4 linked regions of the Homo sapiens genome follow. The gene in region 4 interacts genetically with the main gene of each other region. Each region holds a gene or a part of one and is shown on either strand. Other genes may lie near its edges.

The links.
Region 1: changes in ATR (region 4) and PPP2R2A are lethal when combined (synthetic lethality), as found in Homo sapiens cells (one study listed by BioGRID).
Region 2: changes in ATR (region 4) and PRIM1 are lethal when combined (synthetic lethality), as found in Homo sapiens cells (2 studies listed by BioGRID).
Region 3: changes in ATR (region 4) and REV3L impair growth when combined (synthetic growth defect), as found in Homo sapiens cells (one study listed by BioGRID).

What each region holds. Positions count from the first base shown.
Region 1 is NC_000008.11:26,287,049-26,294,531, reverse strand, and holds the start of PPP2R2A (serine/threonine-protein phosphatase 2A 55 kDa regulatory subunit B alpha isoform), read right to left. Parts: upstream 3,025-7,483; 5' UTR 2,713-3,024; coding exon 2,706-2,712; intron 1,317-2,705; exon of another isoform or gene 1,286-1,316; coding exon of another isoform or gene 1,249-1,285; intron 867-1,248; coding exon 792-866; exon of another isoform or gene 694-791; coding exon of another isoform or gene 672-693; intron 1-671. UniProt on the Homo sapiens protein: Substrate-recognition subunit of protein phosphatase 2A (PP2A) that plays a key role in cell cycle by controlling mitosis entry and exit. Involved in chromosome clustering during late mitosis by mediating dephosphorylation of MKI67.
Region 2 is NC_000012.12:56,749,323-56,756,791, forward strand, and holds the start of PRIM1 (DNA primase small subunit), read right to left. Parts: upstream 3,002-7,469; 5' UTR 2,977-3,001; coding exon 2,874-2,976; intron 1,874-2,873; coding exon 1,716-1,873; intron 1-1,715. UniProt on the Homo sapiens protein: Catalytic subunit of the DNA primase complex and component of the DNA polymerase alpha complex (also known as the alpha DNA polymerase-primase complex - primosome/replisome) which play an essential role in the initiation of DNA synthesis.
Region 3 is NC_000006.12:111,375,187-111,382,218, reverse strand, and holds part of REV3L (DNA polymerase zeta catalytic subunit), read left to right. Parts: intron 1-774; coding exon 775-894; intron 895-1,999; coding exon 2,000-2,237; intron 2,238-4,375; coding exon 4,376-4,518; intron 4,519-5,461; coding exon 5,462-7,032. UniProt on the Homo sapiens protein: Catalytic subunit of the DNA polymerase zeta complex, an error-prone polymerase specialized in translesion DNA synthesis (TLS). Lacks an intrinsic 3'-5' exonuclease activity and thus has no proofreading function.
Region 4 is NC_000003.12:142,568,734-142,575,733, forward strand, and holds part of ATR (serine/threonine-protein kinase ATR), read right to left. Parts: intron 1-7,000. UniProt on the Homo sapiens protein: Serine/threonine protein kinase which activates checkpoint signaling upon genotoxic stresses such as ionizing radiation (IR), ultraviolet light (UV), or DNA replication stalling, thereby acting as a DNA damage sensor.

The sequences.
Region 1 (7,483 bases), on a different chromosome or scaffold from region 4:
CATTTCTCAGGAATGAAACAATGCAACAACTTTGTGGAAAATGCCTCCGCTGCCTAAGACCATCTCAAATGAATGCAAAACCTTGAAGTTTCAAAACTTAAACTTCTGAAACACGTTAGAAAATAAATTTGGGGAGAAAATTAGACGTAAGTACTTCAACTGATCAAACACAGTTTCTACCTGCACAAGAATATACGATTCCTAAAAGACAAGCGATATATGCATAGCATTGTTACTGTCTTATCCACCTAAATACCAGAAAGACAACAAAATGAATAATCTGAGCTATCATCTCTTCACAGAATATGCCAAGCAGCATCACACTCCCAAAGTGGACAAATTCAAAAGTAGTTAAAAAATCTTCCCATAAAAATCAAAGATGCCGTTAAGAATGTTTCTGAGCCAAATGTTGATGGCACCTATTTCAATTTACTTATCTAAAACCAATGTACAAACATAAAAATGCATCACCATTTATTTGTATGTGGAATTTACATAACAAAGAAACCCTTATATGGAGCTCAGAGCTTTCATGTGAGGATCTTATATGTCTCATCATCTACCGCTCCTTCCATGTAAATTCAGAGGAAAAAATAATAAAAACAAGGCGTAAATAACAAATGAAATTTAAGGCTGTTTTTCAGAAAGGTATCTTTTAAAACTGTTCTTACATTTCTTGGACAACAAAATCATCTTGAATTTATAGCAGTCTCGGCTTCAAGGAAATCCTCCAGTAGGAAACATTTCTGCAAAAATTATATATCCAAATTTTGCATTAAACGCTTTCTTACCTTCTGCTACATCATCATCTACTGCTCCTTTCACCTGAGAAAAACACCACTGAATATCATTCCCTCCTCCAGCTCCTGGAAAAAGAAAACATACCAATTAAAACCGAGTTCTGCTTATGTTGACTCTCGTAAACACAAAGATGGTATCCATGGTTGGCATGATACTAACAGCCTAGTTCTGCCCACACATACAACTACCACCAAGAGCACCAGTTTGGAAAGAGGTTAGTCCCCAATACTTGGTACTGCATTAGAAAGAAAAAAAAGATTCCAGGTACGAAATATTTAAAGGCACATGTTCTGTGGTCATTAAACATCTGTTCACAAACTTCCTGTCAAATACAGTAAAAGCCTTACATTCAGGCAAGACCTACCAGAAAAAAAGTAAATACCAAGAGTTAAAGAGTTTTCTTAAGTGTACAAAAAGCCTGCAGAAGAGTTAATAAGGTTAAACTACCATGAAACATAGAACGAAGAGAAAACTTCGGGAACATTACTGCCTGGGTAAGGAGTAATGATTCATATGAACCTTATCACCAAAGTGCACACACAGCAAACACTACACCCATTTCTTTGCATTCATTACCAGCAAATCACTGGCTCCAGACAGAGAGGAAAAGAAACCGAAATGAATGCTGCTAAAGAGACTGTCAAAGGAAGCTTGTTCTGCCTCCCTTCACCTCATCCCTTGACTCCAAAGGACCTGGCAAAGAATTCATTTTGCTAATGTCATCTCGTGCAAAACAATTTTAATCTCATTTCATTTTTCAACAAGGCCAACAAGCAACTTGTTTATAGCAAACCGTAAGTCAATCCGACATGTTAACTTTTTCAAAAGGTTTAATTATCTAAATAATGAATACAGCACGGAAAACTGGTCTCATCTCGGAATGTTTCTATTTCACGTGCAAGTACTGAGGTCGAAATGATTGAAAATGTCCTGGGGCTCTAGGGAGAAAGAAACTGAATCTAAATCTGCAACTGATTCTACTACATGAAGGAAAAGATTTAGCAATACCAACATGTACAAAAAGAATTCTCAAAGCAATTACATTACTTCTCTCTCCCCCATCACCCCTATTCCTTGCTAAATTTATTTCCAAACTGGTTTTCTCTCTACATCCTTTCCCCTCCCCTTCAAAGCTTCTACCTAAATCTCTCTCCTCCTTGCTATTTATATCTCTGAACTCCGCAACTATTTTAACTAACTCTACCAAACCCTTTTGGGAAAAGGACATCTGCAAAAAAGCTAACATGCTAAACGCAAAGTTTAAATTATTTTCATGCAACTTGCTGTACATGAAAGGCCTTGCACTCTTCGGCGGTAAAAGGGAAGAAACGGAAACGAAATGGTTCGAAACAAAAAATTTAGGCTTCCAGTCTCAAAAATATTGGCATCTACAGTGGGGAAAAAATACACATATGCCCCCACTGTATTTTAACTTATAAGGCGCTCTTCCTTCTCGAGGCAAAATAAATGTGTATATACACCCAAGAAGGCTTGCAGCAGGGGGAAAAATAGAAATTAAATGAAGACCTGCAGGAAAAAAAAATAAAGGCGGGGGGCAAGGTGGGGAGGTGGGAGAAGATCCACCAGGCTCCCGAGCGGGAGGGACAAATCTGCACGCACCCCCACCCCGCCCCACCCACGCCTCACCCCAAGCTCGCCGGCACACCCCACCCCCACCCCCGCCACGGCGCCAGCCCCGTTCTCCAAGCCCAGTGACTCTCACCGTGACCACTTGCCTCCCGGGAGCCCTCCCCGCCCCCACCCCACCCCTCTGGACCCTACTCCCTCAAACCCGAGGGGCGCCCTGTGGCTCTGCGCGAGGCGCGGGCGGTCGCTAGGGGGTGATGGAGGGAGGAATAAGGAAGCGGTGCCTTGTCAGGGGGCGAGGGGGATTTCTCCTTTACCTGCCATGTTGCGCTGCAAATGGTGACCCTGCTGGGTTCCTCGGGGTCTCCGCTTCCTGAACTCACCCCCCTCACCTGGGGATGGGGGGGTAGAGAGGGCGGATGGCGGCGGATGGCACCTGCGGGGGGAGGGGACGGGGGCCGGGGGGAAAAGGAAGGAGGGGCGGGCAGACCAGCCGGCAGGATGCTAGATTTCACTCTGGGGCTTCCCCGCTCGTGCTCTTTCTCCGGCAGCGGCGGCGGCGACTACGACAGCGACGGCGGCGGCGGCAGCGGCAGGGGCAGGCGACTCCACTTTCAAAATGGCGCCGGCTGGCCTGGCCAGTGACGTCACCTAGGGGGCGGAGCCGCCGGGCTGGGGCGGAGAGCGGAGGGGGAGGGGCGGGGGAGCGGCCGGGCGGCTCTTGGCCACGCCCCCTTCCTGCTGCGCCTGTGCCCCGCCCTCCGTGTCCCGGCCGGCAGGGCCTGCGCCGCGCCAGCGTCTCGCCATGGCATACCCTCTGTCCGCACCGCCTGCGCCAGGCCGCGGCTGTGTGCACCTAGCAGTGTCCCAGCCTCGAGCACTAGCGCCGGGGCTCTGGGGCGGGCTTAGGAGTCCAGTTTACGTGCTCTCCTGCAAGGATTCATGGGGTCCTATGTCTTCTAGGAATACCTGGGCCGGGCACGGTGGCTCATGCCTGTAATCCCAGCACTTTGGGAGGCTGAGGCGGGCGGATCACAAGGTCAGGAGTTCGAGACCAGCCTGGCCAACATGGTGAAACCCCGTCTCTACTTAAAAATATACAAAAATTAGCCAGGCGTGGTGGTGTGCGCCTGTAATCCTAGCTACTTGGGAGGCTGAGGTGTGAGAATTGCTTGAACCCGGGAGGCAGAGGTTGCAGTGAGCCGAGATCGCACCACTGCACTCCAGCCTGGGTGACAGAGCAAGACTCCGTCTCAAAAACAAAAAACAAACAAACAAAAAACCCCGTACTGCTTCTTAGGAAATTGTCACTTTGGATTAGCCCTGAGACCACAAAGAAAGGGACAGCGGTGCAGACTTACTGCTCAGCCGGGGTGAAAGTTCACGGGGTTCAGAGGGACACGATTGGGCTGGTTCTATCTGGGTGAATTAAATTACCTTCTCGTGGGCCCCAGGATCCAAGGCGGGAGTCCTAGGCACTGCGGACACTAAGAGTGATTTCTAAGAGAAACCTGAGTTTGTGATGAGAGGGTATGGCCCAAGAAGTGACCCGGCGTCTCTCCAGCTAAACGTGTTGGACTGCGTGCTTAAGAGCTGGGCTCAGGGCCGGGCGCGGTGGCTCACGCCTGTAGTCCCAGCACTTTGGGAAGCCGAGGTGGGAGGATCGCTTGAGGCCAGGAGTTCCGAGTTCGGCCTGGAGAACATAGGGAGACCCATCTCTCCAAAAAAAATTTTTTTTTTTAAATTAGCCAGGTATGATGGCGTGCCTATAGTCCCAGCTACTAGAAGGCTGCAGTAGGAGGACTGCTTGAGCCCAGTAGGTCAAGGCTGCAGTGAGCTATGTGATCACATCACTGCACTCCAGCCTGGGAGACAGAATGCGATCCTGTCAAAACAAAAACAAAAACACAAAAAGTGCTGGGCTCTGAAGCCAGGCTGCCTAATATGATTCCAAGGCTCAGGAGATGAAGATGACAGTCCTACCTGATAGGATTGTTGGGGAGATGAAATGACTTAATTTGAGCACATGATAAATGTTAGCTGCCGTTATTATTAGATTTGTATTGAAAGCATCGTCAGTAAGGTTAAGAGGTAGAAGGAAAAAAATGAACAGGAAATGCCAGTCATCAGCTATGAGGGGATGTGCACTTCTGTTGAAAGATGCTCTAATGATGCAGTTGCTATATACAGCACACTTTACATATCCCATTCCATCTCCACGATACTCCTAGGAGATAGATATGCACATTTTACACGTGAAAAACACCTGTAAAAGCATCCAGAATTTGGCCTAAGGCTGAATGGAGTGATAAAGGCGTTTGGAAACCAAGAAGGGGGAGTTAAAGATATTTACACGTCCTCCCCACCATCTCCACTTTCTACCATATTTTTGATTTCCAGGACAGTTGAACTGTAATGCAACGTTCAAAATTCCTTCAAAGGAACAACTGCACCACTGCATGATCATTCCTCTGTTTCTGCATGAATATTTCCCACGTTACCAATGAATTAATCAAAACTAAAAATCCACCCTCTATGTGTCATCTTTTGGCTACCTGTACAACAGGTACAAAACTTCAGTGCACTGCGTGCTGTATTTTCTTCAATGCTGGTGTTTTTCATAAATGTATTTCTCTGGGTATGCCTTCATTTATTTTCCTTTTTGCTTGCTCTGCCCTTCTTTGGTGGTTCAATCCCAGACTCTCCAGGGAGAGCTCTCCATCTTAACCAGAACCCAGAAGGAAGGAGAGAGAGAGAAAGGAAGACAGAAAAAGAGAATATAGACTTTACATACCCTGAAAATGATTTGGTTTACATAAATGATTTGTTCTTAGAAGCCAATAAAGCTTGCCTAGAAACTGGGATAATTATAACAAAAATGTATATAGCACCGACTTTGTGCCAGGTGCTGTTTTAAGAACATTATTTGGAGCCTTGGGGGTACTGCATGCCTGTGGAATGGGCTGACTTGGGTCTGATAATCAAGGGCCAGTGCACCCTGGCACCCTGGTGTAAACGACCTGGCTCTTTTTGGGCCCTGGTCAGCCCTTTCAGAGGACCATAAGCCACCTCCCTTTCATCAGAATGGCCATTAGGAGGAGAGGCCAGAACACCCGCTAGCCCAGAGTCAAGGGTTGCTCTTGTCCATCTCACTTCCATATCTATCTTCCACTTAAAAAAACATTTTTGCCAGGCACGGTGGCTCACGCCTGTAATCCCAATACTTTGGGAGGCCAAGGCAGGTGGATCAGCTGAGGTTGGGAGTTCAAGACCAGCCTGACCAACATGGAGAAACTCCATCTCTACTAAAAATACAAGAAAAATAGCCTTGTGTGGTGGTGCGTGCCTGTAATCCCAGCTACTCGGGAGGCTGAGGCAGGAGAATCGCTTGAACCAGGGAGGCGGAGATTGTGGTGAGCCGATATCAAGCCATTGCACTCCAGCCTGGGCGACAAAAAGCAAAACTCCCTCTCAAAAACAAAAAAAAACAAAACTTTTTTTTCTTTTAAAGACAGAGTCTAGCTCTGTCACCCAGGCTGGAGTGCAGTGGCATGATCATATCTCACTGCAGCCTCAAACTCCTGGGCTCAAGTGATCCTCCTGCCTCTGTCTCCCTAGTAGCTGGGACTATAGGCATGTGCTTCCACACGTGGCTCTACCTTCCACTCTGTCCTCTGCCCTTACCACTGCACTTAAATAGCCTCTGTCAAGGTCATTAATGATCTGTATGTTGCTACAGTGGTCACTTCTCTGTTTTAATTTTTCTGTATTTCCCAGCAGCATTTGAAACCATCCATCAATCCCTCTTTTTTGAGACTCTTTTTTTCCCCTTGACACTTTATTTGTCACCCCCCCTAACCTATCCACCTGTCTAGCCATTCCTTGTAGTTTCTTTTGCTGGCTCCTTCTCCTAGACTACCCTCTAAATATTAGAGTGGTGGCCAGGAGTAGTAGCTCACACCTGTAATCCCAACACTTTGGGAATCTGAGTTGGGAGGATCACTTGAGCCCAGGATTTTGAGACTAGCCAGGGCAACAAAAGGAGACCTTGTCTCTACAAAAAAATACAAAAAAATTAGTCAGGTGTGGTGGCACGTGACTGTAGTCCCAGCTACCTGGGTTACCTGAGCCCAGGAGGTCGAGGCTGCAGTGAGCCATCATCACACCACTGCACTCCAGCCTGGGTGGCAGAACAAGATCTTGTCTCTAAATAAATAAATAAATATTACGGTGATCTGTCTCCCCAGCCTCCGTACTGGGGTCCCTTGTGTAACTACACATTCTTCGAGCAACCTCATTTAGTCTTAAGTAAATATCATGTAATACCATGTATATACCAGGGACTGCTAAATTTAGATCTCCAGCTATGCCCTCACCCTGGAACTGTAGACACACACCTCTGCATGCCTATGTGACATTTCTAGATGCCCATTTAGCATTTCAAACATAGTGCTGCCAGGCACAAGTCTTGATTCCACATCCCCTCCATACCATGGTTGATGCTGTCCCTTTCCTGAGCACTACCATCCACTCACCCCGCCACCCCCACCCCAGCACTCCCACACACCCTGCCAACCCCACCCCCAACACTCCCACACACCCCGCCACCCCCACCCCAGCACTCCCACACACCCCGCCACCCCCAGCCCAACACTCCCACGCACCCCGCCACCCCCACCCCAACACTCCCAGCAGCCGTCCTTCTTCCTCCTCAGCCAGTAAAACTACTGTTCTTTAAAAAACAATTCCAATGTTAACTTCCTCCAGGAAGGCTTCTCTGACATTGTTCCCCATTTCCTACCCACCTTAAGCTGGGCTGGGCACCCTTACTCAATATTCTTGTAAAATCCAGTTCACTTCTGTCTTTCTAGACCACACTCAAATTATCTAAATATTTGTCTGTTACTACACTGAGTTCTTTGAGGGTAGGAAGTATGCCATTCATTGCCATATCATCAGCCACATAATTTGTGGGATTAATGCATGAATGAATAAATCTCTCTGGCTTAAAGAAAACCACTGAAATGTTGACTCCTCAATGCTTGCCATATCATAAATGTTGTCACTCACCCTTAACTGTGGAAGAAAGACGTTT
Region 2 (7,469 bases), on a different chromosome or scaffold from region 4:
TAAAAGCCGAATAGAAGTACTTGATTTTGTAAACCATGTGCATACATAACTGACAAAAATCACAAAACAAAACACAAAAAGTAAATAAAGGTCTATAGATGCTTCTGTCTTGGCCCAAGAAAAAAATGAGACGTTTTCTCCCTTTAGAAATTAAGGAGAAGGAAGTAGAGAGTGGCACCCTAACCCTTCTTAGAAGTTCATTTTCAGTTTTATTCTCAACCTATAAAGGGGAAGTAAAACAACTCCAAAGTATTTTTTTCTGCCTGCCTTTTATTACCTCTTCTCCCCTTACTTTGATGATGAGAGACGGGTCTGGGATTTAGAGTCAGAAACCCTGGGTTTAAGTGCCAGCTCTATCATTTAGAAATTGTGTGTGAGCTTGTGCAAACTATTCAAGTTCTCTGGGCCTGTTTCCTCCTTTGTAAAAAGAATGAGGATTGATACAAGTAACAAGTTATATAACATGAAAAACTCCACATAAAAGCTATTATGCTATGTATGTATTCCCTCCACCCACCAGTGTATATATTTGAGAAGGGGAAGAAGGGCAATTTTGGTTTGTTCATTCACTCAACAAATATTTATAGTGTACTGTCTCTTGCCAGGCACTCTTCTAGGGTACTTAGAATATACCAGTGGCAGGGGGTGGGAGGAGTGGCAGGTTTTAGTAGACCTCACTGAGAAGGTGCTATTTGAGCAAAGATTTGAAGGAGGTGAGGGGATGAACCAAGTATAGAAATGGGTTTTAGGCAGTGGAAACAGCTTGAGCAAGGGTCAGTGTGGCAGGAATGAATGAGGGGGAGAGAAGGACTTTTAGTCAGTGAAATGAGCAGCCACCAGAGAATGTTTTCAGCAGAGGAATCACAGATTCTGAGTTGTTTTAAAAGGATTACTCTAGCTTCTGTATTGACAATGGACTCTAGATTCTACAAAGGCAAACTGTTAGGAGGTTTTTACAGTAATTCAGATGAGATGATAATGTTGGTAGCACTGGTAGTAGTGGCTGGATTTTAGATACACTTATGGTAGAGCCAAAGGGATTTCCTAATAGAATGGGTATGGGAATGTGAGAAAGAGAGGAATCAAGAATAACTCCAGGGGTATGAAGGAAAAAGAATATAAATGTTTATTATGACTGAACTGTACACTTAAACGTGGTAAAGATAATAAGTTTTATATGTATATTTGACCTCAATAAAAATAAACAATTAAAAGAAAAAAAGAATAACTTCCATGGTGGAAGAGAATGTAATTCTCTTTTATTTCCCTCTTTTTTTTTTTTTTTGAGGCCAAGTCTCGCTCTGTCGCCCAGACTGGAGTGCAATGGCGCGATCTTGGCTCACTGCAACCTCCACCTCCCGGGTTCAAGCGATTCTCCTGCCTCAGCCTCCTCAGTAGCTGGGATTACAGGCGCGTACCACCACGCCCGGCTAATTATTTCCCTTTCCTAAATCATGTCGACTTCCTCTTCCTAGTAGCTAGATACTCAATTTTTTTTGTCCTAGTAAAAATGCAACCAATTCACTCCCAAATGATTTCATCAGTAATGCAGAACGTCAAAGAACAAAAAAGGATTAATCACTTGCCAAACAATTAAAAAGTGGCTTTTCATCTAGAATAAACTCTAAAAATTTAATCTCAAAACGCAAGAGGAATCAACCCATTCTTGGTTTACAAAATAAAACAACAAAATATATTAAAAAAAGATTTCTTACTCTGTGAGAATATACTGCGCCTATATCAATCTTGTATGGATTCATTTTCTGCATCTCCTTTTCCAGATCACTCTGGTTGTTGAAGGATTGGTAGCGAATGTAAATATCATCTTTCAATGTGAATGAAAATTCACGGTGTTGAAAGTAATTCTTTATCACTGCAAAATAAATGTACATTTTAAAGTTAATTTGCTACTTTATTTGGCTCAGGGCATTATAATTTTAGCCAATGAGAAGTTTTTTTTTTCGGTGAGGGAATCTTGCTTGCTTCCTGCTCTGTCGCCCAGACTGGAGTGCAGTGGCTCGATAAAGGCTCACTGCAACCTCCGCCTCCCGGGTTCAAGGGATCCTACCACCTCAGCCTCCCGAGGCTGTAGCTGGGACTACAGGCATGCGACCCACCATGCCCAGATAATTTTTGTATTTTTTGTAGAAACGGGGTTTCACCATGTTGGCCAGGCTGGTCTCGAATTCCTGACCTCAGGTAATCCGTCCTCCTCGGCTTTCCAAAGTGCTGGGATTATAGGCGTAAGCCACGGCACTCGGCCCGAGAAGATGTTTTTAATGAGCCCCCTATGCTCAACACCGTGGTAGATGTAAAAGAAAAACAAAACAAAATCCACATGACCTAGTCCCTAATTTGAAAGCAGTTACCATTCCGTATTTGCTAGGGAACGGTACAAAAGATGAAACAGATGCATAAATATTTTAAATATGTAATGCCACCCCTCTCTCCTCGATTCGCACTAATAAATTCAGCTGCAAGGAAGAAAGTATTTCTCTTCCTCTGAGAGAGGCTCTTCCGCTCCTGATGCAAACCATGCCTCAGCAGCTTCACGCTACGCCCCAGTAACCCCCTGGGCACCGCTGCAGGTAAACGGGGCACCTAATGTGAGCCTGACCACGCAGAGGTAGGAGCGGCGGCTCTGTTTTTTTTTTTTTTTTTTTTTTTTTTACAGCGTGGCCGCAGGCTGGCTTATTATATCCTCTCTCGGCCCATTTACACCTATGAAGTGGTGGGGCGGGCTCGAGAGAGCAAATGAAGGCGCGCGGCACAAAGCCTGGTGCACAGAAGGCGCTTCATATTGTCATTCTAAGGACACCCCGCCTCCAACCTCCTCACACTCCGCTCCCGAACCCATTCCTCGCCTCCATCACCTCCACCGTAGTTGAGCCAGCGATAGTACTGAGAGTAGGGAAAGAGCCTCCGGTAATAAAGTTTAAGCAGCTCGGGCAGCTCGGTGGGGTCAAACGTCTCCATTGAGCGCGGAACTCGCCACGGTAAGGATTACCACAGGAATTGGCGGGAACAGCACGGCCGGCGGCCCCGCGACTGCGCAGGCGCTTATGGCCGAGGTCGGCTGTCTGACCCGGCGGCCCGCAGTCCGCCGGGGCCGCCGGGAATTGTAGTTCCCACTTGGTGCGCGCGGGGGCTGCGGGAGACGCAGCAGTTTGCGATCTGCCCACGCGTTCGGGCACTAGGGCCACCGCTCTTGTGGGCAGAAGGCCGCGTCCATTCCAGGAAGAGGATCTTCTCCGGAAATGTGAGACCTATAGCATATTGATTTAGGTTATTAAGATGAAGTAAAAAGGATGCTCCACGTGAACTTTTTGGATGTTTTAGAAATAACACCAGTATCTTTTTTTTTTTTTTTTTGAGACAGAGTCTCGCTCTGTTGCCCAGGCTGGAGTGCAGTGGCGCGATCTCGGCTCACTGCAAGCTCCGCCTCCCGGGTTCACGCCATTCTCCTGCCTCAGCCTCCCTAGTAGCTGGGACTACAGGCGCCAGCCACCACGCCCGGCTAATTTTTTTTTATTTTTTTATTTTTTTATTTTTAGTAGAGACGGGGTTTCATCGTGTTAGCCAGGATGGTCTCGATCTCCCGACCTCGTGATCCGCCCGCCTCAGCCTCCCAAAGTGCTGGGATTACAGGTGTGAGCCACCACGCCTGGCCGACACCAGTATCTTTTAAAAACGTTTGTAGGCAGGTGCGGTGGCTCATGCTTGTAACGTCAGCACTTTGGGAGGCCAAGGCAGGAGGATCGCTTGAGGCCAGGAGTTCGAGACCGGTTGGGGCAACATTGTGAGATCTCTGTCTACACACACGCACCCACACACAACTAGCCAGATGTAGTTGCGTGCGCCTGTAGTCCCAGCTACCCTAGAGGCTGAAGGGTTGGGGGCGGGGAGTGGGGGGAGGGGGCAATCAATCTCTCGAGCTTGGGAGGTCCAGGCTGTTGTGAGCCATGATAGTGCCACTGCACTCCAGTCTGGGCAACAGAGAAAGACCGTGTCTAAAAAAAAAAAAGTTTTGGAAATTAGTTCTTCATGGAATTTCATGAATTACTAGATCCAATATGTGGAAATAAATAACCAAATGAGAAAAGCATAGGCTATTTATTCAGAGCTTACTATAGCAAGGGAGTCAGCCATCATCACTTGCATTTGACAGGACTCAAAGGCAGGCAGAGGAGTAGGAAAGCTTTATAAAAAAGGGAAGCCGTCAAGGTATTCTTTGATTGGAGGCTGTTGGCATGGAGAAGCTGTACCTGGGCTAACTAGTAGTAGGATGCGGTATGTGATTGGTTTAGGGGTGGGTGTTTGGCTTTCTTTGGTTGGACCTATGTTGGAAGCTGTTAAGGAAGCTGTAGGATACTAGTTAAGGCATTTGGGCCCATTGCTACAGGGGTTGTTGTTTGGCCTCCAGGATCATCATTAGAGATAGCAGTTTGACTTTATACAAGTCTGACTTGTAGCAAGCTTGCTTCCTGTGCTGTTTATTATAGATAAGGGGGTTGGTTTCCCCAGCAGGTTGCTGTAGATTGTGGGTCAGAGTTCTGTTTTTATATATGGTCTGGCTGCTGTTCATATATTTAGTCTCTCAAATAGAACACCCAGGTATAAGAAAATATGAATTATAGGAAGCTTGCAGAATCATGGAGAGCTTTACAAGTATGAAGGGAACCCATCTGCTATTGATGTGGAGATCTGCCAATCACTCTTACTGTGTAATGATACCTTATGGCAATTGTGGGCTAGAGTGGGCAGTCACATGAATAACATGTCACATGAAAAACATAGTTTTATTTTATTTTACTTATTTTTTTGAGACAGAGTCTCGCTGTGTCGCCCAGGTTGGAATGCAGTGGCACAATCATGGCTCACTGCAACCTTGGTCACCCAGGCTCAAGCAATTCTCATGCCTCAGCCTCCCAAATAGCTAGGATTACAGGTGTGCACTGCCACACCCAGCTAACTTTTGTATTTTTAGTAGAGACAGGGTTTCACTATGTTGGCCAGGCTGGTCTCAAACTCCTGGCCTCAAGTGATCCACCTGCTTTGGCCTCCTAAAGTGCTGGGATTACTTGTGTGAGCCACTACCTCTAGCCTTGTCTAGCACTTTTATCTTATGGAGATGGCTTCTCTCCTTAAACCTCATGAACCAACTTCTGCTGGCTTCAAACTTCTGCAGCTTTCTCACCTGTCTCAGCTTTCATATAATTAAAGAGAGTAACCTTGCTATGGGTGAGGCTTTGGCTTAAGGGAAGTTATGGCTGGTTTGATCTTCTATTCAGCACACTAAAAGTTTCTCCATATCAGCAATAAGGCTGTTTCACCTTCCTATCATTTGTGTGTTCCCTGAAGTAGCACTTGTAATTTTCTTCAGGAACTTTTCCGGGAAGGAACTTTTCCAGGCCAGGCCTGATAGCTTACACCTGTAATCCCAGCTCTTTGGGAGGCCAAGGTGGGCAGATCGCTTGAGTCAGGGAGTTCAAGACCAGTTTGGGCAACATGGCAAAACCCTGTCTCTACCAAACCAAACCAAACAAACAAAAAAGCCCAGAAAAATTAACAGGGTGTGGTGGCATGCATCTGTGGCCTCAGCTGCTCAGGAGGCTGAGGTGGGAGGATCACTTGAGTCAGACAGGCAGAGGTTGCAGTGAGCCAGTATCGTGCCATTACACTCCAGCCTGGGTGACAGAGTAACACTCTGTCTCAAATTTAAGGCCGAGTGCAGTGGCTCACGCCTGTAATGCCAGCACTTTGGGAGGCCAAGGTGGGAGGATTGCCTGAGTCCAGGAGTTTGAGACCAGCCTGGGCAACATAGCGAGACCTCATCTCTACAAAAACTACAAAAATTAGCCAGGTGTGGTGGCGCAGGCCTGTGGTGCCAGCTACTTGGGAGGCTGGGGTGGGAGGATCACCTGAGCCCAGGAGGCGGAGGGTGCAGTGAGCCAAGATTAGGGCACTGCACTCCAACCTGGGCAACAGACTGAGACCTGTCTCAAAAAAACAGAACTTTTCCTTCGTATTTACAACTTGGCTAATTGCTTGGTGCAAGGGGCCTAGGTTTTGGTCTGTCTCAGCTTTCAACATTCCTTTCTCACTAAGCTTAATCATTTCTACGTTTTGATTTAAAGTGAGAGATGTGGGGCTCTTTTTGTCACTTGAATACTTAGAGGTCATTGTAGGGTTGTTAATTGGCTTAGTTTCAATATTGTTGTGTCTTAGGGAATAGGGAGGCCTGAGGAGAGGGAGAGAGAGAGGAGAACAGCATATTGGCAGAACAGTCAGAACACACACAACATTTATTGATTAAGTTTGTCTTCTTATATAGGCACAGTTCGTTGCACCCCCAAACAATTACAATAGTACCTCAAAGATCACTGATCACGGATCACCGTAACAGATACAATAATAATGAAAAAGTTTGAAATATTGCAAGGATTACCAAAATGTGACATAGAGACATGAAGCAAACACATGCTGTTGGAAAAATTGCACTAATAGACTCACTGTATGTAGGGTTGCCACAAAGCTTCAATGTGTAAAAAATGCAATATCTTTGGAGCATAATAAAGTGAAGCACAATAAAATGAGGTATTCCTGTATATAGCTTTTGCCATGATGTCAGGTACCATTTTATGAATTTATCCCTCATGAGAACTCTATGCGGTAGTTGCCAACATCATCCCTATTTTCTTTTTCTTTTCTTTTCTTTTTTTTGAGACGGAGTCTTTTTCAGTCGCCCAGGCTGGAGTGCAGTGACGCGATCTTGGCTTACTGCAAGCTCCGTCTCCTGGGTTCACGCTATTCTCCTGCCTCAGTCTCCTGAGTGGCTGGGACTACAGGTGTCCGCCACCACGCCCGGCTAATTTTTTTTGTATTTTTTTAGTAGAGATGGGGTTTCACCATGTTAGCCAGGATGGTCTCGATCTCCTGACCTTGTGATCCACCCGCCTCAGCCTCCCAAAGTGCTGGGATTACAGGCGTGAGCCACCACGCCTAGCCTCTTTTTTTTTTTTTTTTTTTTTTTAACGCTTTTCCTGTTTGGAAGGAAAAAGTGCAGCTCGCTGCCAGCAGTCATTTAATTTTACATAAGCATGCTCTTTGAGGCTGAAACAAATCTGACTGATTTCCAATGTGAAAATAAAATATAAAAACTGTTCTTGGAGTTCTTTCTCTCTCTCTCTCTCTTTCTTTCTTTCTCTTTCTTTTTCTTTCTCTCTCTCTCTCTCTCTTTCTCTCTCTTTCTTTCTTTTGAGGTAGAGTCCCGCTCAGTCGCCCAGGCTGGAATGCAGTGGTGCAATCTCGGCTCACTGCACCCTCTGCCTCCCAGGCTCGAGCCATTCTCCTGCCTCAGCCTCCTGAGTAGCTGGGATTACAGGTGCCTGCCCACATGCCCGGCTAATTTGTGTATTTTTAGTAGAGATGGGGTTTCACCATGTTGGCCAGTCTGGTCTTGAACTCCT
Region 3 (7,032 bases), on a different chromosome or scaffold from region 4:
GGTAGTTCAGTTTGGTGTTCCTTCAGGGGACGGCAATTGTTGGAGGATTCCATATGGCCACATGGACTAATATTTTTTGATATCATGAAAATGTAATGAATGTGATATATAATGAAAGCTTTCTGAAAAATATTAATGTAAAATGAATTTTTTAATTGCTTAACCATTTCTTTGTATTTTTATAGCACTTAAAAACTATTTCTGCCCAGTTATGGCAATGAAATGGGAAACCACAACTACAGTTCACAAACAGGCATGAAAAACCAACACACGCCCCATTAGGGATTACACTAAGCTCTTTATTTTTTATGCATTCAAAAGAGAGTCCAATACACATGTGTCAAATAATGAGCACTGTCAATTTTTTTTTTCTAGGAGAGTTCAAAAACATTTATTCTAAATTTGTTGTTTTTGAACCATAGAGAATAAAGAATTTTAGTATTCAAATAAGATAGTTTATCTTTCCTTTTCACTTTATATATTTGAATATGCAGTGATTTTTATCAGAGTAATATAACTACACACATTAAGTAGGATTAAAGAGGTTATAAATATTTGGTGATTTATAGATTCAGTGTTTGTTTTGATAAATCCATGTGACTGGTTAAATATTTCTGTGGCTTTTTATTATGTTTTTATTTGGCATGCATCATTAACATTTTGAAATTTAAAATAGGTTTATATGGTAATGCTTCCAAATTTACACAAATTCTAAATGATAAATTTTGGATTTAGGCCATTGCTTCAATTTTTTTTATTCTTTGTCAAATTAAGGTCACACTAGACACAAAGTGGAAGAAGCTCTTATTAATGAAGAAGCAATTTTGAACCTTATGGAAAATAGTCAGACTTTTCAGCCTTTGACCCAAAGACTGAGTGAGTCACCTGTTTTCAGTAAGTAACAGTGCTACCATAAATATTCAGTATTGTAATTCAGAGAAAATGTGTGTTGTGAAGAGGCATTTTTTTTTTTATTGACTTGAAGAGGTAAATGTTGCATGTTCAGTAAACACTCTACTGAATATGAAAATGAAACCTTGCATTAAATCAAGTAGCTTTGCTTTTTTTCTATACAGCTTAAAAAAATTTGTGAAAGAAAATAGTTTTTTTAACTGTACTTTGATTCACGGAAAACCGTATTACTTAAGAAGGAAAATGCATTTATTTTGAATTAATATTTTGCAAAGTTCAGTACATTACTAAAACACCATAAGTGGTTCTTTCTTGGTGAGTATCACAAATTTCACCGGAGGAAACACGGGTGGCTAGGGCCATGGTCCCAGCCTCCTCATCTCACTGGCCAGGGCTGCACTCAACCAGTCCTTCAGTGGCCTCCCCTTGAGTGGCATCTCAGGCTTCCTGCAGCCACTGCCAGCCTTCCCTGGCAAGGCCTCCCAACTAGGGGCTGACAGTGCTGAGCTGTACCCACGGCCAAGACCCTGTGCAGTCCCAGGCAGCCCTGGCTGGAGCACACAACAATGTTATTTTAATAATGTCCCTAAATTACTCTAATGCAGGTGGTCCAAGGATCAACTTTGATAGGAGAGCTACCTCAACACCTGAGCCTTTGTACCAACTGTATTCTTTCAGCCTGTGCCAGTATCTATGATGTTGTTATTTTATTCTGAGTGATCTGAATTGTTGGATTATTAAGAAAACAGGCCGGGCGTGGTGGCTCACGCCTGTAATCCCAGCACTTTGGGAGGCCGAGGCAGGCAGATCACGAGGTCAGGAGATCGAGACCATCCTGGCTAACACGGTGAAACCCCATCTCTGCTAAAAATACAAAAAATTAACCAGGTGTGGTGACGGGCACCTGTAGTCCCAGCTACTCGGGAGGCTGAGGCAGGAGAATGGCATGAACCCAGGAGGCAGAGCTTGCAGTGAGCCTAGATCACGCCACTGCACTCCAACTCCAGCCTGGGTGAGAGAGCAAGACTCCGTGTCAAAAAAAAAAAAGAAAACTTATTTGTTGGTGATTATTGTACTTGTTTTATAGTGGACAGTAGTCCTGATGAGGCTCTGGTACATCTTCTTGCTGGTTTGGAAAGTGATGGATATCGGGGGGAAAGAAATAGGATGCCATCACCATGTCGCTCCTTTGGAAATAATAAATATCCACAAAATAGTGATGATGAAGAAAATGAACCACAGATTGAAAAAGAGGAAATGGAGCTTAGTTTGGTGATGTCCCAGAGATGGGACAGCAATATTGAAGAACATTGTGCCAAAAAGAGGTAATTTTTTAGTTATTGCAGTTGTTTTATTAACTTTTATCATTATTGTCCTTCAATCAGAAATTATTTATTACTATTGTTCATGATATAAAATACCTTATGAACTAAATTGATGTTTTAAAATTCCCCTTTAGTGATCTGTTTTTCATATGGCGTATACTCCATATTCCAAGCAAAATAAAGTTTTGCTACATTTTAAAAGATTAACCTAACTTTTAGAAGTTATCCATTTATATACACAGTATTAACATATGTGAGTGATAAATGGAGCAAAATTGAAGTGCCTTCTTATCTTAGAACTTAAGAAAAAGAATGCCCTGTGATAGTTGAACTGTTGGGTATCAGAACAACAATGTATAGAGTCAGCCTGAAGACAGGGTATGGTTTTGGGCTCTGATTAGACTAAGGGAACTAAGGTTAAAAACAAATAAATAAAAGACTAAGAAGCAAACACTGGTGTTGTGGTTTGTTTCTCAAAATAAATGAATAAGTTGGTGTTGTGGTTTTCTAAATCAGTCTCTGTGAACTTGATTGGTTTGAGTCTGCCCTTTAGTTATATGCTCTGTGTATAGAAAAATCTAGGCCTATGAGCCTGAAAGACTGAGTATGCCTCTCCTTTAAACTTCTATAGGCTAGATTAGAACTTTTTTAGTCTGTATTTGAAATTTCCAACCCAAAGCCATCACTGAAAGGTGAAACAGGTTAATCCATAAATTCAGTGTTTACATGTATATGATGAAAGTTTTTATTTTTCTACTTAATAAATCAGATATAGAAATCTCCAGATGTGATGTTAAATTCTTTCCTCTAACATTGTCACTGCTGTAATAATAGGCATAGTCAATCCTATGATTAAATTTATGTTTGTATGTTCAGTGGCTGAACCAATTTGGTGAAAACCATGCCCAATTTAACCTTGGGAAAACAAACCTAAACATTTTGTACACATATATTAGAGAGAGATTGAATAGTAGAAGCATGGTGTCTAGAAAAGGGTTTAGTTAATTCTGCTCTTTATATTGGATATTATATTCTGTGCTGAGTACCATATTTTAAGAATACTGAAAAAGGAAAGGGAAAGAAGAGGAAGAAAACTAGAAGGATCTGTGAGCATTGTCACTTTTGAAGAACTTTTGAATGGAGAATGTTTGATCTAATTAGAATTACAAGATGAATGAGAAATGCCTTTATGTATTTTAAAGATTATCATGTGGAAAATGACATCAACCTGCTCTGTATAGCTACAGAGAACAAAATAGGAATCATGTATGGAAGTTGAAAGAGTTTGTGTATTACAAGAAGACAACTATGAATAATTAAAGCCATTAACAGTGGAAAGATTGCCCTGTGAGACAGCAAGCCCCTTATACAGATTATGTAAAAACAGAGATTGTGTCAGGTTCGTTAAAAATGAGGTTTTCGCATTGGGTAGAAAGTTGGACTGGACCTCTGATACCTCTTTCAGCTCTTAAGGGAGTGATTTTTATGATAAATTGTGATTTGGAAAGGCTTAATGGAAAAACAGTTCCAGTATAATAAGTATAATAAAATAATAATAATTTCAAATTGTTGAGATTAGTGAAAGAAAAAATTGGGTATGGATAGGAAAAAAGTTTGCCCATTCAATTAAAAGGGAAAACATCAAGTTAATACCAATATGAGATGAAACTTAAAGACTGGACTTCACTGTCCATCTGAATTTCTCAGTAACCCTTTGTAGTTATTGTCAGGTTGACTGAACACCTTTACTACTTCCTATTACCCTCTCTCTTCTTCAGCATTTTCTCTTCAGCCCTGACCTCAATGCCCCTTCACTCATCTTTTTATTCTTGTTTCTTCCAATTCAGAATGCAGGAATTGTGGTGTATTTTAGCTCACATGAAAGGGATTATGAAGTCTAATTATAATAACTCTTTGTAAGTTACTATAGTAAGACATGTTAATAAAGCAAAGTAAATATGCTTTTCTAGAAGTTACAATTTTCAGATTTTTTGTATTGTTTTACTATAGAGTAACTTAGATACATTATTATAGTTAACTTAGATACATTATTATAGAGTTAACTTAGATGCATTATTTGCATCTGAGATGGTCTTTACTAATGATCATGCTCACCAGTGAATTTTAATGTTCTCCAGATCACTGTGCAGAAATACCCACAGAAGTTCAACTGAAGATGATGACTCATCTTCAGGAGAAGAAATGGAATGGAGTGATAACAGTTTGCTTCTAGCCAGTCTTTCTATACCTCAGTTAGATGGAACTGCAGATGAAAATAGTGGTAAGTAAACAAGTCTACTGTGAGAAATTGGTTATTCACGATCTAAAAATGTATTTGATTTTGAGGCTAGGCGCTCTGGCTCACACCTGTAATCCCAGCATTCTGGGAGTCCAAGGTGAGAGGATCACTTGAATTCAGGAGTTCGAGACCAGCCTAGGCAACGTAGTGGGACCCCCGTCTCTAAAAAACTAAAAAAATTAGCCCAGCATAGTGATACATGCCTGTAGTCCCAGCTACTCAGGAGGCTGAGGTGGGAGGCTTACTTGAGCCCAAGGGTTTGAGGCTGCAGTGAGCTGTGATTGCTCCATGGCATTCCAGCCTAGGCAACAGAACAAGATTCTGCCTCCAAAAAAAATAATAAATAAATAAATATGATTTTGAAACTTTAATCATACTTTCTATTGATTTTGAAACTGTAATCATACTTTCTATATAGTTGGCTAAGGGAGGCTATAGTGATGTTTCGTCCTTCAGGATTTTTTTCTTTTGAAAGAATTAGATACATGATTTGCTTCTCATTTCTAAAAGGATATAACATTTGTTGACCACTGAATTCAAGCTTTGAAAACTTTAATGTTTGTTGTGCAAGTAGAATAATAAACTGAAAAATATGCTCAGTTTATTTGAAGTGATAATGTAAAGCATATTATTTTATGAACATTTTTAAAGTGACAGTATTTTTCCCTTATGCCCCAAAGGAACTAAATAGTAATATAATCTATTTCTGATCAATGGAATATTTGTTTAAAATGATGACTAATAATTGTAACTAACTATATTTAGATTGAGTCATTAATGATAAGCATTACCTTTTTGTTAAGATAACCAAACTTAATTTGATGTAATTTTTTCATAGTGATAGCATTAATATCTTGGTGTGGGAAAATGTCTTAAAAATTAAAAGAGTAAAATGAAATAAACTGTTTTTCCCTCCTCATTTCAGACAATCCATTGAACAATGAAAATTCTAGAACCCACTCTTCTGTAATTGCAACAAGCAAGCTTTCAGTTAAACCCTCCATCTTTCACAAAGATGCTGCTACATTAGAACCCTCATCTTCTGCTAAGATTACCTTTCAGTGTAAACACACAAGTGCCCTTTCTTCCCATGTTTTGAACAAGGAAGATTTAATTGAAGACCTTTCACAGACAAACAAAAATACAGAAAAAGGTCTAGATAACTCAGTCACTTCTTTTACAAACGAAAGCACTTATTCTATGAAATACCCTGGATCTTTAAGCAGTACTGTTCATTCAGAAAATTCTCATAAAGAGAATAGTAAGAAAGAGATCCTCCCAGTATCTTCCTGTGAAAGTAGTATTTTTGATTATGAAGAAGATATTCCATCTGTTACAAGACAAGTACCAAGTAGAAAATATACAAACATTAGAAAAATCGAAAAGGATTCCCCTTTTATACATATGCACCGTCACCCTAACGAGAATACATTGGGCAAAAATTCTTTCAACTTTTCTGACTTAAATCATTCAAAAAATAAAGTATCCTCTGAAGGAAATGAAAAAGGAAACAGCACAGCTCTGAGTAGTTTATTCCCTTCATCATTTACTGAAAATTGTGAATTACTGTCATGCTCAGGGGAGAATAGAACTATGGTGCATTCTCTTAATAGCACTGCTGATGAAAGTGGACTAAATAAACTTAAAATTAGGTATGAAGAATTTCAAGAACATAAAACAGAAAAGCCAAGCCTCAGCCAGCAAGCAGCACACTATATGTTTTTTCCCAGTGTTGTTCTTTCTAACTGTCTTACTAGACCACAGAAACTATCTCCTGTCACATATAAATTACAACCTGGCAATAAACCATCCCGGTTAAAATTGAATAAAAGGAAACTTGCAGGTCATCAGGAGACTTCTACCAAAAGTAGTGAGACTGGATCCACAAAAGATAATTTTATACAAAATAATCCTTGTAATAGTAATCCTGAGAAGGATAATGCATTGGCTAGTGATTTAACTAAAACCACTCGTGGAGCTTTTGAAAATAAAACACCCACAGATGGTTTTATAGACTGTCACTTTGGAGATGGAACGTTAGAAACTGAGCAGTCCTTTGGACTATATGGAAATAAATACACACTTAGAGCCAAACGCAAGGTAAATTATGAGACTGAAGACAGTGAGTCAAGTTTTGTAACTCACAACTCAAAAATTAGTCTACCTCATCCCATGGAAATTGGTGAAAGTTTAGATGGAACTCTCAAATCCCGAAAACGAAGAAAAATGTCTAAAAAGCTGCCCCCTGTCATCATAAAGTATATTATTATTAATAGATTTAGAGGGAGAAAAAATATGCTTGTGAAGCTAGGAAAAATAGACTCTAAAGAAAAACAAGTAATATTAACAGAAGAAAAAATGGAACTATATAAAAAGCTTGCACCTTTGAAGGACTTTTGGCCAAAAGTTCCCGACTCCCCTGCAACCAAATATCCCATTTATCCACTAACACCAAAGAAAAGTCACAGAAGAAAGTCAAAACATAAATCTGCTAAG
Region 4 (7,000 bases):
CCTGGCCTCTCCCCGCTCCCGGCACCCACACCAATTTCGGAGCAAAGTTGTGGGGGAGCCCAGGTGTTGTCAGGACCAGGCCGCGTGTGCATGTGCTCAGGACGGCACTGACACACCAGCCCCCTGCTGCCTCATCTCCCTCTGGACTTTGGGCAGGCCAAGCGGTAGGCTGAGGGCAGCTCAATATGGGCCTGCAGGCGCCCCTCGGCACGAACAGCCTCGGTGTAGTGGGTGGCAGGTTGATGGCAGCAGGAAGTAGGCTCCTGGGAGGAAAGGGGTGGGTCCCCAGTGAAGACCCACCTTCAAGCCAGGAACAGCTTGAAGCCTGGAAGCCTGGCTGCCAGTTACACGGACCACAGCGAGAACTTAGGGTGCTTTTTCCAGGCCCACCCATGACTGCCTATGGACCAATTAGCATTCACTTCCTCCCTTCTGAAGCACATAAAAACTAAATTTTTGGTGGAACGCTAATACCCTTTTCCACAGTGGCTGTACCATTGTACACTCCCACCTGCAGTGGACAAGGGTTCCAATTTCTCCACATCTTCACCAACACACGTTATTTTCTGGGTGTTTTTTTATTATTATTTTATTTTCCCCTTTTGGCGACAGGGTCTAACCCTGTTGCCCAGGTTACTGTGCAGTGGTGCACCCATAACTCACTGCAGCCTCAACCTCCCAGCCTCAGGAGATCCTCCCACCTCAGCCTCCTGAGTAGCTGGCACCACAGGTGCATGTCACCACACCCAGCTAATTTTTTGTATTTTTTGTAGAGACAGGGTTTCACCACGTTGCCCAGGCTGGTCTCAATCTCCTGGGCTCAAGCGATCTGCCTGCTTTGACCTCCCAAAGTGCTGGGATTGTAGGCATGAGTCACCATGCCCAACTGTGTTTTTTTTTTGTGGGATTTTTTTTGTTTTTTGGTTTTTTTTGAGACAGAGTCTTGCTCTGTCACCAGGCTGGAGTGCAGTGGCATGATCTCAACTCACTGCAACCTCTGTCTCCCGGGTTCAAGCAATTCTCCTGCCTCAGCCTCTCAAGTAGCTGGTACTACAGGCATGCACCACCATGCCTGGCTAATTTTTTGTATTTTAGTAGAGATGGGGTTTTACCATGTTGGCCAGGATGGTCTCAATCTCCTGACCTCGTGATCCGCCTGCCTCAGCCTCCCAAAGTGCTGGGATTACAGGCATCAGCCAACATGCCCAGCCCCAACTGTTTTTTTATTAATAGCTATCATAATGGGTGTGAAACAGTATCCTGTGGTTTTGATTTGCATCTCCCTAATGATTAGTAATTGTGAGCATCTTCTCATGTGCTTATTTGTCCATTTGTATATCTTCTTTGGAGAAATGTCTATTCAAGTTCTTTTTCTGTTTTTCATCAGGTTATATTTGTTGTTAAGCTGTAGGAGTTCTTAATATATTCTAGATATTAAACTCCTTATCAGACATATGATTTGCAAATATTTTCTCCAGTTCCATGGGTTGCCTTTTCACTCTATTGATACTGCCCTTTGATGCACAAAGTTTTTAATTTTGATGAATTCCAATTTATCTGTTTATTTTGCTGCCTGTGCTTTGTGTCATATCAAAGAAATCATTGCCAAATCCAGTGTCATAATGTTTTCCCTCTATGTTCCCTTATTTTTATTTATTTATTTACTTTTTGAGACAGAGTTTCACTCTTGTTGCCCAGGCTGGAGTGCAATGGCGCGATCTCAGCTCACCGCAACCTCCGCCTCCTGGGTTCAAGCGATTCTCCTGCCTCAGCCTCCTGAGTAGCTGCGATTACAAGCATGTACCACCACGCCTGGCTAATTTTGTATATTTTTAGTAGAGACAGGGTTTCTCCATGTTGGTCAGGCTAGTCTGGAACTCCTGACCTCAGGTGATCCACCCATCTTGGCCTCCCAAAGTGCTGGGATTATAGGTGTGAGCCACCATGCCCGGCCCCCTCTATGTTCACTTCTAAGAGTTTCATAGTTTTAGTTCTTATGTTTAGGTATTTGTATGCCTTTTGGACTTTTAAAATTTTCCTGTAGCAGTAAAGAGAGAAGCCAGATTGCAAGGGGCTGAAAATCTAATGAAATGTGAATACTGAGAATAGCGGGTTCTTTCCAAAGCTTGATCATGAAATGAAGAGAAGTAGAGTTGGTGATAACTAAAGAACTGTATGAGATCAAGAGGGCTTTGTTTTGTTTCTCCCTTATAATGGAAAGACCTAAGCAACCAATTCTTGAGATGTGACTCCTCTTCTTGGAACCAGATATAAGTAAAAAGACAATCCTTGGACAGGAGGGTAACTCTTTCATAAACATAGAAAGAATGGATGGGTACAGACGCAAATAATTTAATAAATTCAAAAGGCAAGTAAAACAAGATCCTCTGCTTCAAAGAACTCAGAATAGTTGCTGGGGAGAGGAGAGGAATGCACTTAAATAATCAAAAGCGGCCGGGCATGGTGGCTCACGCCTGTAATACGAGCATTTTGGGAGGCTAAGGCAGGCGGATCATGAGGTCAGTAGATCTAAACCATCCCGGCTAACATGGTGAAACCCCATCTCTGCTGAAAACACAAAAATCAGCTGGGTGTGGTGGCGGGCGCCTGTAGTCCCAGCTGCTCAGGAGGCTGAGGCAGGAGAATCGCTTGAATCTGGGAGGCGGAGATTGCAGTGAGTCGAGATCGCGCCACTGTACTCCAGCCTGGGCGACAGAGCGAGACTCAGTCTCAATAAATAAATAAATAAATAAATAAATAAATAAATAAATAAATAATCAAAAGCAAGTATCATGTACACCCAAAGCAGGGAATGATTAACTCTACCTAGAGGATTCACAGTGGGTTATGTGTGAGTGATTAGCAAAGTCCATCACTTCTGACAAAACAACTTAGGGTGTAGTAAGACAGTTACTTATAAATAATAGCATATATTTCATATATGTCACAATTTATTTCTATATAGCACTGTAAAATGTTCATACATTTTCCCCACTTATTATCTCAAATAGTGGTAAAAGAAAAAGAGTGAATTTTTTTCTTTTTCTGATACAGAGTCTCGCTCTGTCGGCCAGGGTGAAGTGCAGTTAGTGGCACGATCTTGGCTCACTGCAACCTCCGCCACCCGGGCTCAAGCAATTCTCCTGCCTCAGCCTCCCAAGTAGCTAGGATTACAGGCGTGTGCCACCACACCCAGCTAATTTTTGTATTTTTAGTAGAGACGGGGTTTCACCATGTTGGCCAGGCTGGCTCGAACTCCTGACCTCAGGTAATCCGCCCGCCTCAGCCTCCCAAAGTGCTGAGATTACAGGCGTGAGCCACCGCACCCGGCCCTTTTTCTTTTTTTTTTCTTTTGAGACGGAGTCTCGCTCTGTCGCCCAGGCTGGAGCGCAGTGGTGTGATCTCGGCTCACTGCAACCTCCGCCTCGCAGCTTCAAGTGATTCTCCTGCCTCAGCCTCCCGAGTAGCTGGGACTACAGGCACGTGCCACCACGCCCGGCTAATTTTTTGTATTTTTAGTAGAGACGGGGTTGCACCATGTTAGCCAGGATGGTTTCGATTTACTGACCTCATGATCCATCCGCCTCGGTCTCCCAAAGTGCTGGGATTATCGGCGTGAGCCACCACGCCCGGCCTGACTTTTTTTTTTTTTTTTTTTTTTTTTTTGATTATTCAAACCACAAAGTCCAATCCTAATTGATTACATATAGGATCAATAGCATTTACAGCTAATAAATGCCATAAAAGAACTGATACTGGTCGGGCATGGTAGCTCATGCCTGTAATCCCAGTGCTTTGGGAGTCCAAGGTGGGCAGACTGCTTGAGCTCAGGAGTTTGAGACCAGCCTGAGCAACATGATGAAACCCTGTCTCTACAAAAGAAATAGAAAAATGAGCAGGTATAGAGACACACACCTGTAGTCCCCAGCTACTCAGGAGGCTGAGGTGGGAGGATCGCTTGAGCCTGGGAGGCTACAGTGAGCCAAGATTGTGTCACTGCACTCCAGCCTCGGTGACAAAACCAGACCCCTGTCTCCAAAAAATAGAAAAGAAAAAAAAGAACTGTTCTCTGGTCCTGGTACATAGTAGACATTTAAAGAAAAAAAAACAACTCTTCAATGAATGAATGGTTCATAAGAACCTTCCTGAATTTTGTGGTTTCTTCATTCCTAATGTACAGCCTTCTGGACCTATGGAATATTTACCTATTCCCTGCCACTAGACTATAAGCTCCTACAGGTGGCAGACTGTGCTTTATTTCTCTCTGCATGTCCTAAAGTGCCATTAGACCGTAAGCTCTTATAGGAGAGAAAATGCATTTTATTTCTTTTTGCCTCTGCTACATCACCTAGAACTTGCTTAATAGAAAAACTTACTGAAATTAACAAATGTTTTTAAGTAACATAAACTCTAGACACAAAGAATCAAAGGGCCAGGCGTGGTGGCTCATGCCTGTAATCACAGCACTTTGGGAGGCTGAGACGGACTGATCACTTCAGGTCAGGAGTTCCAGATCAGGCTGCCCAACATGGTGAAACCCTTTCTCTACTAAAAGATAGAAAAATTAGCCAGGCGTGGTGGTGGGCGCCTATAATCCTAGTTACTTGGGAAGCTGTGGCACTGAGGCAGGAGAATCGCTGGGACATGGAGGTGGAGGTTGCAGTGAGCCAAGATCGCACCACTGCACTCCAGCCTGGATGACAGAGTGAGACTTCATCTCAAAAAAAAAAAAAAAAAAAAGCAAGTTTGTATATGCTACTAAATAAAGTCCTTAAAAAAAAAAAAGAATCAAAGAACAAGTAGTTACATTTGCATATGAAAGCAAAACAACTTAGTGCTATGTATCTTATTTAAATCAGCGCTGGCCAATAGAAATATAACGTAAGCCATAATTTTGTTATTTTCTGGTAGCCACATTAAGAAAAGAAACAGGAAAAAAACAATTGATCCTAACAATATATCTGAAATATTAGGTGAATGTGTAATCGATATAAAAATTATTCATGAGATCTTTTACATTCTTTTTTCTGGTACTAAGTCTTTGAAACCCACTGTGTATCTTATATTTACAGCACATCTCAATTTAGACTAGCCGCATGTGAGGTGGTCAATGGTCACATTTGGCTAGTGGCTACCATAGTATAGGGCATCACAAATTTAACAAAAAATTCAAAATCTGTAATTACAAGGTAACATGAATTGTTTTAGACAAAGTCAGGAGACATTATGATAAACCACAGTAATTTCACAAGTATCATTTAAAAATGTGAACAAAGAGGAACATGGGAAGAGGAGCCAGGATTGTGGGTAGTGGTCAGAGTTTCTTACAAAGTTTCATTTTGTAAAGATTATGTACTCATGTATTATTTGTGTAATTTTTAAAAATCAGTTTTAGAAAAATGTAAATTGATTACCATTCATTAGATCTACTATCAGAAGAAAGAAACTTGGCCGGGCGTGGTGGCTCATGTCTGTAATCCCAGCACTTTGGGAGGCTGAGGTGGGCGGATCACTTGAGCCCAGGAGTTTGAGACCAGCCTGGGCAACATGGTGAAACCCCGTCTACAAAAATACAAAAATTAGCCAGGCATGGTGGCACACACCTGTAGTCCCAGCTACTTGGGAGGCTGAGGTGGGAGGATCGCTTGACCCCAGGAGGCAGAGGTTGCAGTGAGACATGTTCATGCTATTGAACTCCAGCCTGAGCAACAGGTGAGCCAGTCTCAAAAAAAAAAAAAAAAAAAGAAAAAAGAAAGAAAACTCACAGGAGTGAGCACTTCTTATTTTGTGACTTCTACCCTGGAACTGAGCTAAGAGGGTATAACTTTTCAAAAGCATACTATAAAATTTGAGTATTAATGTAAGTATTATATAAAGCTTAGGCACCTCCTCTGAGGTAAGCATCAAATACCAGGATAACCAAGACAGAATGCACCTGCCCTAAAATAATTTGCAGATTAAAGGACAAACAAGAGGTAATTATGGTTAAGAACTGACAGGCCCAAGAAAGAACACAAAGGGACACTCAGCCCTGAGCAGGGCCCTGTCAGTCATGGCTTCCTTAACGAGGTGATACAAAACTGACTCCCTAAGGGACAAGGCAGTGAAATAAGGGTAAGAGGGAGGGTAGTCCAAGCACTGGAAACTGTAAGAGGCTCTATGTGGCTAAAGCCTTTAGAGATGCAGCTGAAGAGGGAAGATAAGGTTAAATTTCAAAGGACTGGCTAAGTAGTTTGGATTTTACACTGAAGGCAATGTGTAAGCACTGAAGGATTTTAAGGAAGTAAAAATTAAGCAAGTTTTAAAAAACTTGCTTATTTCCCTGTTTAAAAGATTCCAATGGTTTCCCATCACACAATAAAATCTCACTCCTTTTTCTAGCCTCCAAGGTGCTGAAGGATGTGGCCCTTGCCTACCCCTCCCTGTTTAACTCATACCACTCCCCTCTTTACTCCCTGTGCTCCAGCCTTCTTACTATCCTTTTAAAAGTAGGCTCATTCAGCCTTGGCATGGTGGCTGAGGTGGGTGCATCACTTGAGGTCAGGAGTTGGAGACAACCTGTGCAACATGGTAAAACCCCATCTTCACTAACAATATAAAAATTAGCTCGGTGGTGCAAGCCTGTAGTCCCAGCTACAGGAAAGGGAGGCTGAGACAGGAAAATCGCTTGAACCCGGGAGGCAGAGGTTGCAGTGAGCAGAGATCACGCCACTGGAGAGGGCGAGACTCCGTCTCAAAAAAAAAAAAAAAAAAGCAGGCTCATTCCCACTTATGGGCCTTTGTACTTCCTATTCCATCCCAGATTCACGTGACTAGCTTCTTTACACCATCAAATCTCCTCTAGTGGCTAATGCTGCTGCTCCTCAGAACCTCCTCCACATCCCACTGTTCCATTTAACATTTTAATAGCAACTATCACATTTGAAAATGTCTTACAACTACAAAGCAATCTCAAGTAGGAAAATCAGAGAAGGTGATTCTGAAATGACATCTAAATGAA